Homo sapiens: one gene and its partners. The protein of the gene in region 3 purifies or fractionates together with the protein of the main gene of each other region. This does not show direct contact. Each region holds a gene or a part of one and is shown on either strand. Other genes may lie near its edges.

The links. Proteins that work in one complex are often made in the same cells at the same time.
Region 1: the proteins of MAB21L1 (region 3) and MEIS1 purify together in Homo sapiens (affinity purification with mass spectrometry; 3 studies listed by BioGRID and IntAct, with this or other methods). This does not show direct contact.
Region 2: the proteins of MAB21L1 (region 3) and PBX1 purify together in Homo sapiens (affinity purification with mass spectrometry; 3 studies listed by BioGRID and IntAct, with this or other methods). This does not show direct contact.

The regions. Positions count from the first base shown.
Region 1 is NC_000002.12:66,508,115-66,515,142, reverse strand, and holds part of MEIS1 (homeobox protein Meis1), read right to left. Parts: intron 2,995-7,028; coding exon 2,849-2,994; intron 1-2,848. UniProt on the Homo sapiens protein: Acts as a transcriptional regulator of PAX6. Acts as a transcriptional activator of PF4 in complex with PBX1 or PBX2. Required for hematopoiesis, megakaryocyte lineage development and vascular patterning.
Region 2 is NC_000001.11:164,807,174-164,814,201, reverse strand, and holds part of PBX1 (pre-B-cell leukemia transcription factor 1), read right to left. Parts: intron 6,661-7,028; coding exon 6,525-6,660; intron 2,213-6,524; coding exon 2,053-2,212; intron 1-2,052. UniProt on the Homo sapiens protein: Transcription factor which binds the DNA sequence 5'-TGATTGAT-3' as part of a heterodimer with HOX proteins such as HOXA1, HOXA5, HOXB7 and HOXB8. Binds to the DNA sequence 5'-TGATTGAC-3' in complex with a nuclear factor which is not a class I HOX protein.
Region 3 is NC_000013.11:35,473,665-35,480,647, reverse strand, and holds MAB21L1 (putative nucleotidyltransferase MAB21L1), read left to right. Parts: upstream 1-3,958; 5' UTR 3,959-4,509; coding exon 4,510-5,589; 3' UTR 5,590-6,859; downstream 6,860-6,983. UniProt on the Homo sapiens protein: Putative nucleotidyltransferase required for several aspects of embryonic development including normal development of the eye. It is unclear whether it displays nucleotidyltransferase activity in vivo. Binds single-stranded RNA (ssRNA).

The sequences.
Region 1 (7,028 bases), on a different chromosome or scaffold from region 3:
AGCAAGAATTCAGAAAGGATTTCCTAGATAAGTTGCATTAATCACATAGCAATGACGTGACCATTTAAAATTTGTACAGTCTTCCTAATGAATTGTGCATCCCTGAAGACCTCCCAGAACTTGAAATAAAGTCACTAAAGAATTAGTACTGAGATGTCAGTGGTTACTTACATTTAGACAAACAACAACAAAACTCTCTTTAGATTCTATAGGTTTTTAAAATAGAATTTATTAAAATTAGCTCCTTACTATAAATATTACCTAAGCAGTCCATGCATTCCTTCAAGAAGGATTACAAAACAAGGGTAACGGGTGTTCCTTATAGCTGGAGGTCTATTTGCTCTTGCAATTAGAGAAGTGGGAAGGAATCTTTTTCATTGGGGGAAGGAAAAGATGAAAAATTTAAACATATCTCTTAACTTTGCTCTTCAGATGATGTTATAAGAACAATTAGCTATCTACAGACCATTATCATTAATCAATATTTCTGTATGAGCAGATGGCATTGGAGTGGGTAATGGAGGTAGAAATATCCAATGGAAACCACAAGGTAACACCTATAAACATTCACAGAAAGCTGGGGAAACATGGATGAATGGGCTTCCCCTTCCAGGGCAGTGGCACAGGCCAGCAAAGACCTCAAAACTGAAGACTATTATTTAGGTCTCAAGAAATCAGGCAGTTCATGAATAATTTCGATTACAATTGCCCCAGTAACAAACACATAGTCCATATAAGCAATGCAATGCATGTAAAATCATGCGGGCTGTTAGAAAGTTTATTTGGGTTTTTTGTTTGTTTGTTTGTTTCAAGAAGATAATGTAGCTCTATGCAAGGGTCTTCACAAGGGTACAACCTAGAAAAACAGGAAAACTAGTGGCTGCATAAAATAGCTTGCTTCTCTCTCTCCTGATTCTGTCTGAACCAATATTTGATTATATTTTATTCAGGGGCACCTCAGCTTCAAGTAAAGCCAAAACTCCTTTGCAGATTGAGATGGGGGCTGAAGAAATCTATTCATTGTTTCTGTTAGTCTATAGGAAATAGAAATTATTTGATTGTGACTTCAGGGCCAACCTGATTTTATCCACCACACCAACTCATTCCACACAGCGAGTTAGCTGGTTATTTCTGGAGATAAAATATTAGCATCATTGCATCAGCATCATTGTACCACACCTTTGACCAATTGCCACTTCTTATCTAAATGTCATATCATTCGTTTTTCATGATATGCCCTCAAGACCTGAGTCCTCTTTCCCCTAGTTCATTAGTGATTGATAATCCTCAGTGGGGAATTTGCAGGAGTCAGATATTGAAATATCTACACACATGCAACAGGTGTCAGATAAGTAGTGGTGCCTGAATCAGATTCTAGGTAAACCTAATATGATGTTAAAATCAAAACAGCTCAAATAATCTAAATCTCCAACTAATTTCCAGCATAGCCAAGCCCTGAAGTTTACTCAAAAACTGTAGTGTAGTCTAGATACTGTTTGGAATTATTATGGGAAGAAGAGAAGGGAGGAAACTTTTTTTTTTTTTTAGCTATTCCTGCTGCTCTCAGCTTTTATCTTATTCACTGATGCTGGAAAATCTGGATTAATTTATACCCTTGAGTATTATTAGAGGCACAGCCTCTATCCAGAGGAGCAGAACTAACATGACCTGCAGACATCCCCTGAGTTTGTATCTCTGTACCCGTAAAACTCACTGAGGAACATGGCTTTGAATGTGGGCCCAGGTATGAAGGTAAACAGGCTCTGCAAGTGTTTATGACAATGCAAGATTAACTTTAATATTTAAGGAAAAATTGACTTTAGGAAAAGCAAGCTAAGACAAAAATAGTAACACAAAATATTTTCTCCTGATATTAAAAAACAACCCTCAAGAGTTTTTAACATTTATCCATCTATGTAACTTTGCTACAACCTGTCTAAATTCATCCTTTGTCTCTAATATTGAAATTCCTCTGGTCAACAATTTTGTTGATTTTTAAAATATTATTTTATCCACAAATCTTCATTGTATCTTCTTCTTTAAATTGGTATGCACTTACAAAAATATCCACCAAAATATTATTATTATAAATATTTTGAACATGAAATTCATTCAGAACAATAACCAAACAAAACAAATCCCCCAGTGGCATAAAGCCCCAAATCTCCAGTTTCTCACATCTCCAGGAGAATTCCTGCAGTGAAAACAGCAATACTGGCACAGACAATATAAACTGTTACTCTGCTTGAAAAGTCACAAGGGACTACACAGGAAGAGCTGACTCTATATTGCTGTTTTCCTTTACAGTTCTAAATACAGGGACAACTTTCACTGTGGAGCTCTGACTTACATGAATGTTTTGTAATGGAAGCCAGTGCATTCAAACCACTTAAAAGCAAATTATGTGATCATCTTGCCATTGCAACATGATTTAAATTTTTGTGGACCATTTGTTGTAAAGATCCACTAAAGCATCAGAAGATATTAAGTCTCTCTCTAGGGTTTGTCTAACTTTCTTCTTAGTAGGAGATGGTTCTGAGCACTTAAGGGTCACACTTAGAAAAGCAACATCATTAAAACACATACTTAAAATCACAAGTGCACATGAACACCTAAATCTTTTAACTTATGAAAGTTAACAAAATCGCAATCGTGAATTTTAAATAAAATTTCTCATTTGGGGTATCTATCTAAGAAATAAGTGCTAATACTTTTGCAAAAACTGTGGGAACACAGTTATTTATTAAATATTTCAAGTCCAGAGGGATCACTTTTTTCTCATTTTTTTGTATAAAAACTGGTTCATTGTCCATATTTAGTTTATATATGTCATTTAGAATCCACTTACTGTTAGATGCTGGAACAGCCACGCCCTCATGATATTTGTGGCTACTTTGGGAAAGATGCCACGCTTTTTGTGACGCTTTTTGTCCTTATCAGGGTCATCATCGTCACCTGTGCTGGGGGAAGCTACACTGTTGTCCAAGCCATCACCTGCAAACATAGCGAATCAAATTTTGACTGATGCTACCTTGACATGCTTTATTCAAATAGAATGCCTTTGGATATAAACAAAACCAAAAGAGCAAATTTAAATGATTAATAGTTTCTTTGGTACTGTTTTTTTGTTGTGTTTTGTTTTCCAAGACAGAGAAAGAACAAGGCCTAGGCTCAAGAGCAGTCAGGTCTAAAGAACTTCTTCCAAAGAACATTGCCAAAAGTCAAAGGGAATGGAGGGAAATATCCAATCCCCTTGTGGCTTTGTTGCTATGGTAATTATTCCAATATGTATAGCTGAGACAGGTTAAGTGTAACTCCTACCGGGGAGTTAAACATGGTGGCAGTCATTAGCTGTGGCGCTATGGCTGCCTGGGCATTCAAATCCCACAGTCATTGACATTGACTTGTGAGAAGATTCATTTAAGATATCAACTATTTCCACAAGTGATCTATCTTAAGACTAGTTAAACTAGGATGGGGAAATGTAGGTAATCCATCATATAAGCAGTTTGACATAGGAATGCTTCAAATAAAATATAATTTTTCTTGTAATAGAGAGAAAGCATCAAGTTTAGTAAAGGAAAAACCCCTGACATAGTTTCTTAATTAAAAAACAATTACTGTGTAAATCAAATAAGGTAATGCTAAATTAATAGTAAATTAGAATTGTATTACACTAATAATTCAGGCAGTTTCTAAAATTCATGCTAGGTAAACCTAGCATTTTTCACACTGAAAAATCACCTGCTAACATATTCCTCTATATTGGATCCTATTTTTCTATTGATTTTTATTATAACATTTACACTCTTTATTCTAGAAAATATTTTGGCTCTGTGACATAATGAAATTTAAAAAGTTAGTATTTCTTTTTTAAAATGCCATGTTTAATAAGAAAAAATAAAAATTTAACCCATATAACTGTTCAAAATAAGTTACAAGGTACAAATGGAAAGTAGGTATTTTTTGCCTTGGCATCAAAGTCAAAAAGGAAAACAACAAAGGACAAGACCCATTACACTAAAAAGTAGCTTAGCTCGGTCAACCGTTCTCTTAGAAACCGACAGGTTGATCTGGGCCCAAACGGAAGAGCTATAGCAGCCAGGCTTAGAAATGAGGTAAAAAAAAAATACACCCAAGAGCACATTCACTGGGTTAAATAAGCCACTGGAGAGCCAACTACACGACCCAAAGAACCTGAAACTTTGGTAAGACAAGTTTCCTGCACATAGCCTCAGGTTCATTTCCATGGCTTCATGAATTTCTGTATTTCTCATTTCTGTTATTAGGTCCTACATAAAAAAATAATTCTCTAGTTCAATTTCAGTTATTTCTGTCTAATCTATAGTAGGTATGTTGCAACTAATCAACTGTTTTTAACAGCTCCCTCAGCAGACCCATCTCTCTCCTGTGAAAAAAAGAAAAGAAAAGCATTCCTCAATTTTTTTTTTTCAATTGCCTTAACTTGTACTGAGATGAAGTTTAGAAAGTTTGTTGGGTGAGGAACAAACTAATTCCAACATTTCTACTATTATTACAGAATATGCTATAAATGCAAAACTTTTGCAAAACTTTTCTGATTCTAAACTTTTATTCATTAAAAATCTGTAATTTTATTATATTTAAAATCTATCTGTTTCATTAAAAGTTTAACAGAAACATATCTTGTGTTCACTTGGAAAAGATCATGAAAACCCACCACTCCAAAGCCATTGTTGTATCAGTGAAGAAAATGCTATGTTCTCTGACTGGGCCAAGGTCATGTACCCTGGCATGGAACTACTGGGGTCTGTGCTGTTCCAGACCCCTACATCTGTAAATCAGCACTCCTTCCACCCAACCAAACTCTTTATTTGCATAACCAAGTATTTTATGAGAAGTCCCCTTGGATTTGCCTAATAAATTCTTTGAAAGTCCAGTATTTAAACAGCCTTTTTATTCAGAGAAGCAGTTTACCATATAAAATAACAATTCATTAAAGAAACATGAGAAAAGAAAACAACTCAACAGCATTTAAATTTTCAATGGGCTAATCCACTTTCAATATGCAAAAGGTAACCAAGGAAAAGACACATACGACCTGATCATTGATTAAAAATGAAAAGCTTATAACCTTACAATACTGTTTTCACCACCTCCCCATGATTATTTTCCACCTTTAAAAAAAATAGCCTTTTTATCCACCTCAAACCCCTTCAGATTAATTTAGCAAGCAATGCATAGTGCCTGCCTAGAAGAGAATTCATTGATAATTTATGGAAATATCTACTATAATCCAGCAGAGATGACTTTTTTCCAGCTTTGTGCATCAATAGATAATCAAGGCCTTAAAGCAACCTTAGCTTCCCATTACCTCAGGCAAAAGAATTCCTGAAAGCGTGCCTTGAGGGCACCTGAATTATATACTCCATTAGGAGAGGAAGGCTTTCTGCATTCCATGTGTAACACTCACCAGAACCTTTCCTGTTTATTTCTGCTGTATGAAAGCAGAAGCATTAGGAACAGAATTTTTTAAGTGAAGACTTATGTAGATACAATGGAGAAACCTTTCAAGCAGGAGCCAGATCACCCCCTTCAGTCCCTGGCAGTGACCTCTCCTGAATAAAAGGTTTCTATTACATCATTAGCTCAAGCCAAAAACAGCCTTGGCTTAATGCACAGTTTGTTCTTCCTACTGTTTTTAGGCAAATACAGCTACTTTACTCCCATCTGGGAGGGAAATTACACTGCTGGGTTGTAATCTAAGACAAGATTTTCATTGGAAGCAAATGCTTTCAATCCAGTGTAAATACTGGTGCATGTTCAGAAAAGCCTAAAACAATAAACCCTGCTCCTTTCCGACACAAGTTAGGGAAATGGAGAAGATGGGGAAGGAGAAGAGCATAATAAAACAGACTATTCTAAAAGCAAACACTTTCATAGATTTTAATAAATTGTTTAACCTCTTCCACTTTCTAAAATTGAAAATTGATCTGGAAATGTCTCAACCTCAGAGGAAAGTCTAAATGGTCAATTGTACCTTTAGCATTTCCATTCACTCCGCAATTTGATATAGTCACCTCAATGTGGTCTCTCGAGAATTTCTTTCCTTTTTTACTTTTGAGATCACTAAACAAACTTGGAGAACCGCCGGCCGACCACACGGCAGCAGGCAGCAGCTCTGAACCACATTTGTAAAATGTCAGCAGTGACTTCATTCCTGGAGCTGACTTCTCCTGCCGCCAAATGAAGGCAAACTGAAAAGGTGGAAATAATCATAAAAATGATGCTAGTCCATAAACAAGCTTACAGCCTCATTAGGATAGCAGTAGGCTCCAGTGGGTGATTTATGCTCGTTTTGCTGATGCTATGAGGAAATGCCATAGGGCGACTTTAGCCAACCGCTAATGGTTTCTGACAGCTTCTTAGCAACTAGTGCAAGCAACGTTGTGGCGTTTGCTAGTGACAGAAACTGAAAATGTCATATTATCTGCCCATGTGTCATGAAGTCCGTGTGGCAATTAACTAGCAGGCCAGTGACTGAGGGGCCAGAGGCTCCTGAAAATGGCCTTTGGCTATGCAGAGGCAGCGGCCGGGGCTGCGCACACACAGGCCGCACATATGCAACATTCTAATGCAGAAATCCTCTCCCTGCAACTTCCTGGGCTCTGATGAGACCGGGCCACTCCAGTCTCTTTTTTCCCCCTCATTGAAGTGAAACTCTGGGTTCCTCTCTCTCTAGGCACAGGCTCGGGCATTATAAGACTCTAAAGCAATCTGCTTTGATACGATTATCGGAATGGCTCCTTAATTGGCAATACCTGGTTCTGTGCCTCTTGGATGCTGGACTCAAAGGTGCTAGCTACAGTACTTTGCTACTCTCTCACAAATTAGTCTAAAAGGATTTAAGATCACTGGAGCAGACTCATTGCCTGTCAGATTTCAAGGAGCAGAGGAACTCTGCACAGCAACAAGACACTATTTAAAAAAACACCAGGTTTCTAACGAGCAGGGGGAGAATCTTGGCCACACTTTTCAGTTTCCGAGCT
Region 2 (7,028 bases), on a different chromosome or scaffold from region 3:
TTCTACTTTACCTGTGTGGATGATTTAGGTTGGTTAAGAGCAAAAGAAAATACAGAAAAGCCCATTTATAACTTTTCCTGTTAAAATGTTTATCTTTTAAAATTCCATGCTATTGCACACATACAATAGTATTTTCTTTTGCCTCTACTTTAGAAAAAGCACTACAAAGGGGTTCCTGTGCAGATTATTTCCAACAACTTACGCACAATTGGAAGGCTTAGCTCAAATTTTCCATAATAATTTACTTTGTGCTCAGAATAGTCACATGATGTTTAAGCCACCAGAAAAAAATTCCTTAGAAAACTGTAATCATAGTCTGACATTCCATAAGAGGCAACCATATTTCTTAAACACAGAATAGAGGGTTAAAATGCTTATTTTTCTCTTTTAAGGGCTTTAGGAAAGAATAAATAGTTACAAATTTAGTAATGAAGAAAGTCCACAGGGCTTTTCTAAGGACTAGTCATAAATCATGCTAAGCCATCTGCGATGCAGATATACCAGGGACAGGAAAAAGTCATTTTGATATCGTTTTGCATTATGATAACCTTTGCAGGAGTGTTGAGTGCATTTTTGCTAATGTTGACAGAATTGTACTTCTTCCAAAGAGACAAGTGAAAATGTCTGCCTAGCAGCACAGTTCAACTGGTGTTGTTGGGTCTGAAATTCTTAATAATTGACCAGATGGAGAAGATGGAACTCTCTCTGGTTATTGAACCTGTTAGCTTTGATCCCTTGTCAATCACACCATGATGGAGGAAGAAAAAAACAAAATATTTCTAAAAAAGTAAATATGCTCCTCATAGGAATCTAACCTGCAGTGCTGGGAAAATTAAAACTGGATTGAATTCTACATTGTTTTATTATATCCATGTTGAAAAAGCCCAGGCTACTCTTCATGCATGATTCCATTTAGATAAAAGAAGGCCACAAAAGAAGTGCTGGGTATAGCCCAGTGACTTGGAGGACCTTATCATAACAAATTTATGCATCTGGAAGCTCACAGAAGACATCAGTCTGTGGAACCCTACATTTCTCCAGTAACGAGTCGCTGTAAGAAAACTTATTTTAGTGGACAAACAAGCTTTGTGGTCAAAGATACCACATACTCTAAAAAATGTTAGACATTAGGTTTGTAATCATATTACGATCAAACATATTTAAATTGGTAACCTTTTAAGTTAGAATCATCAGTTTTCTTAGCTGTGCACCCTAATCAAAGTCAAACCAAACTTATTTAATGAGAAAATACTTGTCTTTCCTTTACCAAAGGGAAAAAAAAATTACCACATGCCTTCCATAGCATACAAACACAAAGGTTATATTTTTTGCATTATTAACTACATTTTTTCACATGTAGAAATTCTGAACTGATGACACAAGGCACACCCCAAAATATAGTATTTTGACCTAAACTCTTAAATTAGTGATATAATGCATATTTCCTGAAACAAAGCCTATTACATAGCTCATGACCGATAATCATAAAGAAGACCAACAAAAAACAATAAAGAACAACAACTATAAACAATATATAGAAATATTCATAGCCTGGCTTTGCATACCAAAGCATTCTAATAAGATATTTGCTAGAAGAGTAAATATTTCTGCATAGAATGCATGCTAATAAGTGACCCAGACATTATGTTGTTGGAACAGCAAAACTGACAAGGATAAAAGCTTTATATAAAACAGGCCAAATGACAGAATCCCAATAGACTATCTCTAAGCACTATGTCTAACTTACTTATTGATATCCCTGAGAGGAGAATTTAGAGGTCTCTTCAAGCTAACCAATTTACTTTGGTCTTAACTTAATAGACAAATTAATGCAAACCTCCAGACAACCCACGTTGTAAAAAGTCTAACAGATTGCTCTTTGGAAATGAAAGAAAGAGCCCAAAGTGACATTAACATCCAAAAATACAATCAAATACAGAAATTAACCAATCAAAAGCCTAACAAATTAAAAGAAAATCCCAATGTAGGAACAGCCAGTATAAAAATGGAGAACAATTCCTTCCCCCACCCCCAATCAAAGAAAAAACTAACCAGCCGAGTTGGGAGTTGAGGGCGAGTTAGCTTGGCTTCCATGGGCTGACACATTGGTAGCAGTGACAGCTGTTTTGGCAGCATAAATATTGGCTTCCTCTTGAAATTTACCTATGTTCTTCTTGTACCGGATTCGCTTATTTCCAAACCAGTTTGATACCTAGAGTAGTTTAAGAGAAGATGAGAAAGTTCACATTTCATCCTTCAGAAACATTGCAGAAGAAAAAAAAGGCTTTATGGGAGAGGTGAAGAGGTAAGCTAATTGGTCTTATCCTATAATAATTTGGCAACATCAGTAAAAAGATCTGAAGTAAGAGCTTCAAAAGGACAACTACATAAAATGCGATTCTCTTGTTTAATATAACTGAAATTTAGCGAAACCACTGTGACAAAAATCTTCCTATAAAGGAGCTGCTCATTTAAGCTAGAACCCTTTTAATTTAGAGCAAGCATTTTAAATTTGCTTACATCTTCAGTTATGACACTAAAATATACCTAACATTTCAGGAGAAATGCCCCTAGCGTTTATCAATGTGAAAGCTGGCTTGATGCCATCAAGATACACAGATCTTTAAATGTCCATATAGGTGCTTTCGTGTGATAGATTAATTGCAAATTTTTAGAAGTTACATAACTTTAATGTGGACTGAGATTCTTAGCTGTATTTCACTATAGACCTTAGGATCAATATAATTCAATCTACCAGATTTCACTGACTATTTTGTGTAAAGCTTAGTGTTATCTACATAAGGAAAAACTGTAGCATACAAATGATTATCCCCTTGAATTCTAGGGTTTAAATGTTAAAGCCAGCAGACACAATAAACCTAATTTACTTTCATTTGTTAATTTATTTCCTTCATGTGGTTCGCAGCAGGTGTCTTGGCTTGATCTGGTACCTCTGCTCCCTTCATACCAAGACCTCTGCCAGACACAAGTGGAGACACAGTTAAATTCAAGTTTTACCCCCATAATTCCTGCCCGGGGAAGGAAAGTTTTATATCCCACATTCCAGATATGATTTTGAACTAAAATGTCGATGTTTTTATATAATTACAAAACAAACTATGAATCTGGTGAGGGAAGGGGGAGTTGATCCCACATGTACCACAGCTTACATATCATTGATATTTAACTCCCAACGACGGCAGATAAAGAAAACTGTTGCAAAACTATACTTAATTTTTTAAACGCATTAACAAACTTAAAACATCTTATAAGGATAGCACTGAAAGGCTTATACAGTTTATACTACAGCAGAAATGCCAAGCCTTTCTTTTTTAAAAAAAAATCAGTCTGTACCACCACAATATTAAACAAAAAAGAAAAAAATTCAATAAGAAAATGCTTTATTTATTGTAAACACTGATGTCTACAGAAAAAGAGGTAAACTGGAGGAGGAAGGACACTTTTGGGTGTATTTCAGGATCACTGCATATCTAGTTTCACTTTGAAATTTATGTTTTTCTTGACATAACTTTCACTATTCATAGGAATCAGTCATAATTATGGTTGCTTTTTGATTTATGGGATAGGAAAAGAAGAAAAAAGGTAAGGAGATTTTTTTTCTCAGATAACTGCACAAGCTGAAAGAAAAGGGAAAAAGATGAAGATAATTTCAGAGGACTTTTGAAGAAGAAATACCTGAGGTCCAATTATATGTAAAAAAAATATGAGCTGAAGGGGGTAAAGAGGGGACATGTTGTGGGAATGATACCCTTCTAAATGACAACAATGGAACTGGTAGGAAGGTGCTAGGTCAGTTCAGGGACTTCCTGCATTGTCCAACAGACAATGATCTGGACAATGTATAAAATGAGTGTTATCATGAATGAACTAATTACTCAACAGTCATGGACTAAGGGCCTAATACGCGTTAGGCACTAGGGATGTATAGATAACAGACACAGAATGAGACATGAAATACAGAAAGAATAGTAGGTTTTATGGGAAGAGTTTGATTCACATTTTGAACAAGTTAATTTTGAAGAACCTCTGGGCAGAGCCATGATGAAGTCCATTAGGAAGTAAAATTTATGAGTTTGGTGCTGCAGGGGAGAAGTTCCATTAGGTATTCAAATGGAGGTATTATTTGTAGCTGTGAGCATGGAAAAGATCACTCAGATAAAGCATATAGAACATTGCTTTTCAAAGTTAAGTGTTCATGGGGAAGTTGTTAAAACAAATTTCTATTATAGATTTCACCCTCAAAGATTCTGATTCAGAATTAGGGTGACACTCAAGAATTTATATTTCTAACAGGCTCCCAGGGGATGCTGATGCTGCATTCTGTGGATCACACTTAGAGTAGCTCTGGTATAGAAAAAGGGCTCTTTAGGGATCTGAGGAGATACAGTCAATAGGCGGATTTCAGATGGATTTGGGTGTATGGGCAACATATCTTTGTTTTGGGTCATGGGGGAAATCAATAGCTTTTAGTAGATTTCAAAAGAATTTGTGACTTCAAAAAAAGACAATAATGATACAGCCCAAGAGGTATTCCCTGGCTTTGGGAATTAGGAGAAAGATTTAATAAATCATGTGATCCAACAAACCATGATTAGTAAATGGGGCAACTAAGATCCAAAAAGAAAGAGTGAGTTCCCTAGGATCCCACAGTTGACTCTTGTCAAAAATAGGCTCCTTGCTTAATGCTCCTTCTATGACATCATATTATACTGTCTTCCATTGGACTTGTTTAGCAATGGTAGCTTAGTTGCTTTGGGGAGAGACAGATGTGATGGGGAAGAAAGAATGGCATGACTTTGGCATGGACAGAGGAAAGGGAAAGGTGACACAATATGTAAATAAGGATTTTAATGGACACACTATTTGTACCTTGAGTTTCCATAATGAAGGAAGTGAAGGTTGCGGGAACAGATCAGGATTTTAACTTGTATCCAGCTATACTACAAATTACCTCCAGGAGAATTCCTTTTACCTTCAACAGGAAGTTGAAATTCTGAATTCCACACTTGGAATTCAGACAGTAGTAATTTAATTATATTTTAAAAGCAGAAGGTTCCATGATAAAATTCAGTGATTTGATATTTGCTGCATATTTGTGGTCCATACCTAGAAGCATTCCTCAAACATGTAGCAAGTATCAAAAAGCATTAATTCCCTTTTTTGTGGAAAAGGGGTTTAGATTTGGATAAGAATGGTGACAGCCCTAGAAAAAACTAGGCTACTTGAGTTTGACCGCTGACGTTCCCGTTTCCCAGAACTGTCAAGACTAAAAATGACCTCCAGCTGGGTCAAAGCACCTAAGGAAGGCCCAGGTTAAAAAGGAGTCAATTCATTCTGCTTTATCTGAAAGAATGTTTTCAAGGATATTTGCTGCTGTAAAATCATCTTAGTTTGTTGGGAAGGCTTGGACAGTCCCTTCATTGTCAATACTTTTGTGGAGCTCTATATTCTGACTGGACCTAATTCTGTACAGCTAAACACAGGTTGATGGGATCAGCACCCTGCAGGGATTAACAGAAGTCAGGATTCAATTCAAGGAGGTACAGATGCTTAGTTTATATAAAAGAGCATCTACTTCATTTGAAAAATGGTAAGTGAAATTTCTCGCTACAGTAGCCTTCACTACTCCCTCCCCTCCCCAGTTTTAATGGAAATATCAGTACATTTAATTCTCCTGCATGTGACAAAATTCTAAGAAAAACCTTCTCCGATAGATTTCAGAATTATCACTATGGTTCTCAATTAGAAACCAGTGGTGGTATTTGAGGTTCAGACTGAATAAGAAGTTTGGGTGGATCTTTTGAGTGGACAAAATACACGTACACATAATTATTGCCTACTTCTCTGCTTCATATTCGTGTTGAAAACTCTAGGCCTATAAAAATTTTATGTCATGTATCTTTCCAAGTCATCAGACACCACCTGTTATGGTTATTGCTCTTTGGGGGAAGGGGGCATTCAGTGACATTTTGTTCACCATTCCAATGTAATCGCAGTGACATGTTAAAATTCCTACACTCCCATCAGTTATAGAGTCAGCACATCAAGAGGAGACATTTAAGTTCTTTCATTTAAAAGGCTATATAACAACTAGTTCCATTCACTGACTCTTAAAGTTCCTGGGTTGGGCAAAAAATGGCTAAGGAATTGACTGAATTTGAAAAAACAGCATGAGGAATGCAGATAACTTTCCTAGTACACTTTAGACACCTCACCCATTTGAAGCAAAGGAGTGCTCGATGGGAAGAACCCTAATCCTGTTTTTACATTGTACTCTACTTATTCTTCTCTTCCTTCTGCTGGTTCTTCTCAAGTTTTGCCAAGTACTTACCTAGAAACTCACTTATACGCATACACATCAAGTGCTTACCTTGATATTTTAAGGCTATAGCTGATGGAACTTGCAAGGCATGAATGTCCAGTAAAGCAAGACCTCTAAGAGCCTGCCCCGGAGGCCCCGCCATGGCCAGGCTACAGGCTGAGGCTTTTGAGGTGCTGCTTACCTGGGAGACTGTGATGCCACACTTCTTGGCTAACTCCTCTTTGGCTTCCTCACTGGGGTAAGGGTTGCTGAGATGGGAATAGAAATATTCATTCAGGATTTCTGTCGCTTGCTTGTTGAAATTCCGTCTCTTCCGCCTTTGTAAAGAGAAAGGAAATAATAACAAAAAGGCTCACACCAAATAAATATAAAATGGGAGAGAATAAATCTACTTCTGGGAGAAGACAAATTTTTGAGCAAAAGGTGAATTTGGAGCAGATTTACCAAAAGGGGCTGGATGCCAAAACCAACGCTAAAAGCATTTGCTCAATACTTCATTGTGTACCATCTGGGCACCGAACAGAAGAGTGGTCACAGATATTTTTGCAGAGTAGTGAGGAGTATAAAGTTTCAAAATTCGGGCCATCTTGGTTTGTTTTTTTGAGATGGAGTTTCACTCTGTCACCCAGGCTGGAGTGCAGTGGTGTGATCTTGGCTCACTGGAACCTCCACCTCCTGGGTTCAA
Region 3 (6,983 bases):
ATGAGCCTTCAAAGCCACTCCAGCAGTAGGGATAAATAATGTAATAAACTCAACTTCATATTCTTTTTATCTCCCCAGCGTAATAAGCACATATTAAAAAAATAAAACTTTAAATTCATTAATACTTGTGAATAGACTAGCAGCTAGCAGATAATGAAAAAACACCAAACAATATCTATATAAGCACTTAACATGTATGTGCATATCCTTTAACAGATACCTTTTTTCCAGATGAAAGGTTACAATTACTGAGATTTGTGAACATGCAATTCAAATTTAAATCAGGTTTTTTTCGAAAACAAAGAAATATTGCATTCTTGTATTTCTCAACATAACAGGGTTTTTCTTTAAGCTTAATAATGACACTATTTATGAATTACTTTGTATATCCCATATAAGTAAGCAGGTCTGCAGAAGTGGAGACAAGTTATTTAGGAAATACTACTTGAGGCAAAGTTGTTTTGCCACTGTTATTTCGAACGCTTCGAAGTGTTAAGGATCACAATATTTAATTATTTTATATTCACTAATACTACTAACATTTATGATAATGGTGTGCTATGTCCTTATTGCTTTTTTTTTTTTTTTTCCTAACTGGTACATTTTAAATCGAGCCTGCCTCATAAACTAAGTAAATGCAATGTAAAAGTCAGTTAGGCATTAAAATTCTAAATACCATTCAATATAAGCATTTCAAACTATCATTAAATCATGAGATTCTTGAGATTTTTTTCCTTCAATTAGGCCAGTTTTCCTCAATTATCATTCTATTATTAGCTCATGTCAAAGATGTCTGCATGCCTACCACTGAAAACAATTAAGTATTTACATCCTAAAGCATGACACACACACAATTTTATTCTAGTAGCACTGAGTATATTTACAACAAAAAATATTGCAAGACTGGTATAACTGGAGTTTTTTAAAAAAACTTTTCACATTAATACATAAATGTATATTAAGCCATCTCTATGTACTACATAATCATTTGACATAACTAGTTTAATAGGTCAAATGATATTTTTTTAAAATTCACTGAAAAATAGTTAAATATATTACTCCCATAAAATAAATATATCCCCCAAGCCTAGATTAAAATCGGCTGAACTGCACAAAAATGTACTGTTATTTGCAATCCCTCTCTATAGGTCATTTCCATAAAAAAATTTCGGGGATGGAAAACACGCTTCTCCGAATAGCTTAATTCTCGCTTCAACAATGAGGGGCGTCTACGATCACTGAAAGGATTCAGCTACAGAAGGCAATTCATTTCACGTGTTCAGTGTAATAGAAAATCACTGTGTTGCAGCAACAAGCAGTACTTGCACTAGAGTATTATTCATTCCAGGGCGCCCAGTTCACCCACAGTGATAATCGCGGACCGGTGAATCCTATGTTATGTAAATCACCTTCAGCTCCTTGTGTGAGGGGTGCTTAAGGAAGCAGCTTAGAAAACACAGTCCTGGCGTCCTTTAAACTAAATGACTTCACTTTCCTGAACACTCTAGATCTAATGAGTTTCCTAGTATACCTTTTCTCACCATCCATTTTTCTTTCTCAAAGTGCAAATCGTTAGTGAAAAGGCGCTGGTTGCACCAATTAGTTTGCACAAAGTGCTTCGGTGTTTAGCTTCGCTTTAACCCAATTAAGCTGCACAGTGAGCCCCGAAGATGCGCCACCTGCGCGCCTGGCTCCAGCCAGGCCCGACCGGCATCCCTCGCAGGCCCGCGTCCTTCCCGTTGGACCCACTTAAGGTCCCCCGAACAGCCCTGGGGCCTCCCCGTCCTCGGCTGTCTCACGTCCTTGACAACCAAGGGTGTTCTGCAGGTGGCCCAAGAAGGCAAGGGGCGAGGTCTTGGGGCAAGCATCTCTGGCCTGAACCCAAGGGAGAGAGCGCAGGGCGCAGGGGCCCGCGGCTGGGGCTTGGCTGCGACCACACCTGGGCCGGACGTGGGCGGTGCAGGCTGAGGGGTGCGTGGGCAGACCGTGGTCTGGAGCAGACGTGGAGAGTAAGCCGGGACACCAAGTAAGGTTTTCAAATAAGCTCACGCAGAAATAAAGCGTAGCGATCTTGAGCCCAGAGAGGAAAGTAAGAGGGCACGGGAATGCGGAGCAGCGAGAGAGAGGCGGCGAGCGGACGGCACAGGGCCACACGCGCCGGGTGAGGGCAGAAGGCGGCGTTTCCCCAGAGACCACTGCACATCCTCGCCGTCGTGGCTGCAGGTTCTCCGGCTCTGATGGGTCTCCCCTCCAACTGCCAAAAGGTAGTGGTGCATTCACCCGCGATGACGGCAAAGTGGGGAGGGGTTTTTTGGGTGTTCCCAGACCCTGCTCTTAAGGGGATGGAAGGTTCTTGGGAAATAGAGTAGCTGGGTGCCACGCACCCCAATGTATACTATTTTCAGCTAAATTGGAATCTATCACTGTTGGATAAGGAGAAATTAAATAATAGGTGGTTTTGTGATGCTGTGCCTGTGCAAAACAAAACACACAAACAAAAATCAAAAGCTTAAGTAGCAAGTGGGAGCCCTGAAGAATATCTTGTTAAAAGTGACTCTGAAAGTGTCTACAAACATGTTACCGGGAGTTATAGGATTTGACGGGAAATATTCTTAATTGGAAAGACGTGGCATCTAAATTAAAGGTAGACAATTAAAAAAATCCACCTAGTTTTAAAAACCACAACGTAACCACTAAGTAGTATTTCTTTAGTTTCCTGTACTTTGAGGACACAACTGGACCACCAACTAGAAAAAAAAATTCCTCCTCCTGTTTCCAGGTTCCAAAATTCAGAAATGAAATGATTTATTTCATTTTTGTTTTCAAAATGATGTTTAAATCCAAAAAACCCCCCAGATAACTGCAAGTTAATTTTCTTTGCAAATGTTAACCATTTTCCCTTAATTAAATCACACGAAATAGTATAAAATTAGAAGTCTACTGCCAGGTCACCACTTAAGGACACTTAAGACAGGAGATATATCCTTAATTATACATCTGTAAACAAGCCAGATACCCCAAACCTTCAATTTTTCGGGATAGTTATCTGTGAGGAAGCTTGATCTCTATGATCTCACCTGAATTTTATGTACTAAAATACAGGTCACTATGAAATAACGCTAAAGTACTCTGTCCATCCCACAGACAATTTATTTTTCAAATGTTTCTATAAGTGCATATATAGCGTTGTGTCCTGCTTGTAATGCTGGGCAAGTCCACCAAAGTGCAAAGACTGCATCTGCTGGGGCAGAGGGATGTACGAAATATTTTTTAAATATCCTAACTTAAACAGGGGTAGAACATCTCACACACTCAGCAATAATTTTCAGATTCAACAAATGGAGAAAAGAAAAAAACATAAGTAAAAAAAGAGCATACTACCTCCATAACGTTTCAAAAAATCATTTTAACATATAGGAACATCCAGAATGAGAAAATTACACAGGTACTCCTCCATCTAAAGCCAACTTCCATATGCCAGTAGTCTGCATGAAAGAACAAACTTTCAACCTGCATTTAAGAAGACCCCAAGGATTAACAGACGTTAATTATCTTACTCTAAATGCAAGTTAGTGATTTTGTTTTAGAAAACCCCGTCAAGATCACTAATTGATGGATGCCCATTAATACACCTGTATTTGCATTTCAGCGGTAAAAGACAAGCAGGTTTTCGGCACAGAAGAGAGCCGCTTTGCCAAGTCTTTTCAAAACGTCAATATGCTTCAAGTAATACCAAAGCTGAGAGATTCCTCTTGATTTCCAAACTGTCTAGGTGGCCTGAGTGGTTTTCCGCCGGCAGCAGCCTCCTACCTTTAGTTTGTGTGCCTATATCCATGAGTGGGGATTAATTAGCCGGGTTGGAGCTGAAGGAGGCTGTCGTGACGAGCCCAGTGGCGATTGGCCGCCCGCCTGCCTGGCCCTGCCTTTATAATTTCCACACGAGTGCATCTGGGCTCTTAGACAAACCAACAGCAGCTTCTTCTGACATATACACACGCACACTCACCCCGGACACACACTCAGCACACTTTTCCTCCATTTGATTAACAGTGCTGCACACACAATGATTACGGGAAAGCGCAAATAAATACGGAAAGGGGTGCTTATTTTGACTACTGGAAGAGCTTTGCTGGGTCTCAGCGCAACTTTTGTTTTTTATTCCTGAGAAGGTGATCTCTCCATGCGGTTCTCTCACACAAGGATTCTTTAAAAGAGGAAGAGAGACAAGCAGAGGGGGGAGGACAGTCTTTCACTTTAAGAACGGCTGGGCTCAAAGATAAAAGGAAGGGAAAAGCAGCAGCAGCAGCAGCAGCAGCAGCAGCAGCAGCAGCAGCAGCAGCAGCAGCAGCAGGGAAACCAACGCTGCAGCACTTCCGAAAGGCATTTTTGATCCATTTCTGAGTGTTGCGGCCCGTTTCTCCACCGAAGTTGGCTCCAGCTCTAGCAGCCGCATTGGATCCCACAGCTTACTGCGAGACTCCGGTGTACAATCCGGATCTCTGCCCCAACATGATTGCGGCCCAGGCCAAGCTGGTCTACCATCTGAATAAATACTACAACGAAAAATGCCAAGCCAGGAAAGCTGCCATTGCCAAAACTATCCGGGAAGTCTGCAAAGTAGTTTCCGACGTACTGAAGGAAGTGGAAGTGCAGGAGCCGCGGTTCATCAGCTCTCTCAACGAGATGGACAATCGCTACGAGGGCCTCGAGGTCATCTCCCCCACCGAATTTGAAGTGGTGCTTTATCTCAACCAAATGGGGGTGTTCAACTTCGTGGACGATGGCTCACTGCCCGGCTGCGCGGTGCTGAAGTTGAGCGACGGGCGCAAGAGGAGCATGTCCCTCTGGGTGGAATTCATTACCGCCTCCGGCTACCTCTCGGCGCGCAAAATCCGGTCCAGGTTTCAGACGCTGGTGGCTCAAGCGGTAGACAAATGTAGCTACCGGGATGTGGTAAAGATGGTGGCAGACACCAGCGAAGTGAAACTGAGAATCCGAGATAGGTACGTGGTGCAGATCACGCCGGCCTTTAAATGCACCGGGATCTGGCCGAGGAGTGCTGCCCACTGGCCACTTCCCCACATCCCCTGGCCGGGACCCAACCGGGTGGCGGAGGTCAAGGCGGAAGGTTTCAATCTCTTGTCCAAGGAGTGCCACTCCTTGGCCGGCAAGCAGAGCTCGGCGGAGAGCGACGCCTGGGTGCTGCAGTTCGCGGAGGCAGAGAACAGACTGCAGATGGGGGGCTGCAGAAAGAAGTGCCTCTCCATCCTCAAAACCTTAAGGGATCGTCACCTTGAACTGCCGGGCCAGCCCTTGAACAATTACCATATGAAGACTCTGGTTTCCTACGAGTGTGAAAAGCATCCCCGAGAGTCGGACTGGGACGAGTCTTGCCTGGGTGATCGGCTGAACGGGATTTTGCTGCAACTTATCTCCTGCCTGCAGTGCCGGCGGTGTCCCCACTACTTTCTACCGAACTTAGATCTGTTTCAAGGCAAACCTCACTCAGCTCTGGAAAACGCTGCCAAACAAACGTGGCGACTGGCAAGAGAGATCCTGACCAACCCGAAAAGTTTGGAAAAACTTTAGAGGATGATTTAATCAAGAGCCGAAATTATTACCCTTCTCAAAGTCCTTATTAAGTGTAAACTTCTGTTCAATTCCTAATATTCCACTCCGCAGTGCAAACAATCTCTTCCTTTAAAAAGGAATAATAATACAATATTTAAACATCATCTCACCCACCCCCACAAGGGGAGAAAAAGTAGGGGAAGCGGATGGAGAAAAACCCAAAGCCACTAGTATTAGAAGACTTCTTTCCACACGATTTCCTATCTCCCTTGAAAAGTACACCGTAACACTCCGTAAACAGCCCAGCTGTAACGCCAGACCGAGACGAACACTCTGCCTAACTATCAAAGGATTATAGCAATCCTGGTGATTTAGGTGCATCTGTCTGTGAGTAAACACGATTTGGATATGCCATCTGAAAGAAACTGTAATGTATATTTTGATTTGTAACAAATATTGTGATCTCACATTGTCTTTGAAAGTGTGGATGTTGGTGTTTTGTGATTTGGTGAACAGAACTTAAATTGCCATTCTGGATACTTCCAGACATTTTCCACTAACAAAGATATCATTTAAAGGTAGATTTCTTCCTGGTACTTTTATCTGTCTTTGAAAGTGTCTGAACTTTAAAAAGTTTACATTTTGTTTCAAATATTGCTTGTTCTATTTCTAACATTCCATAAATATACTTGAAATGTTATTTAAATATATTCAAAGAAATTTGAATTCAGCTTATATAATAACGCTTGAATATCTGAATTATATATTTGAAAAATGCACTTGAAATACACTGGATAATTACTTTTGTGATTTAGATTTTAATTTGTTGCTGGTTTTTATTTAATTAGATGGTAATAAATGAAGTAAAATAAAAGTTGTTGTGTCTCACTTTAAATTGTTTCCTATCACAAGATGTAATGATGCATTTTGAAAATCAAACCCACTTGAATATCTTAAATATTTTGAGAAATATGCTAATGAAATCCTTAAAAATAAAACATTGGAGAAAAGCTCTTTCTGTATAGGTCCATAAGATAACAATCTACTCTCAGTCTCTAACTTACTTGTAAGACAATTCCTTTCTACAACAGAAACAATTTAAATCTACCTTTGAAAGCTTGCTCTTCTTGTAGCATTTTTGATAATATAAGAAAAAAAGTCTATCATGACAGTAGAGATGACTGAGTTAAAAATCTGACTAATTCAGAGGAAATGAACTTAACAAAGTCATAATGAAACTTCGAAAATTATGTATGAAAACTAATAAAACGATCCTTTCTGACCAATATATTTTATGTCAAACCTTATTTTATGTAATAAGGGTTCCATTAGCAGAATAAATTCATTAGAAATTCAACATTTCTTTTTGACTTCATAGGGCAAGCTAATAAAAGGATGAACACAAAATTTAA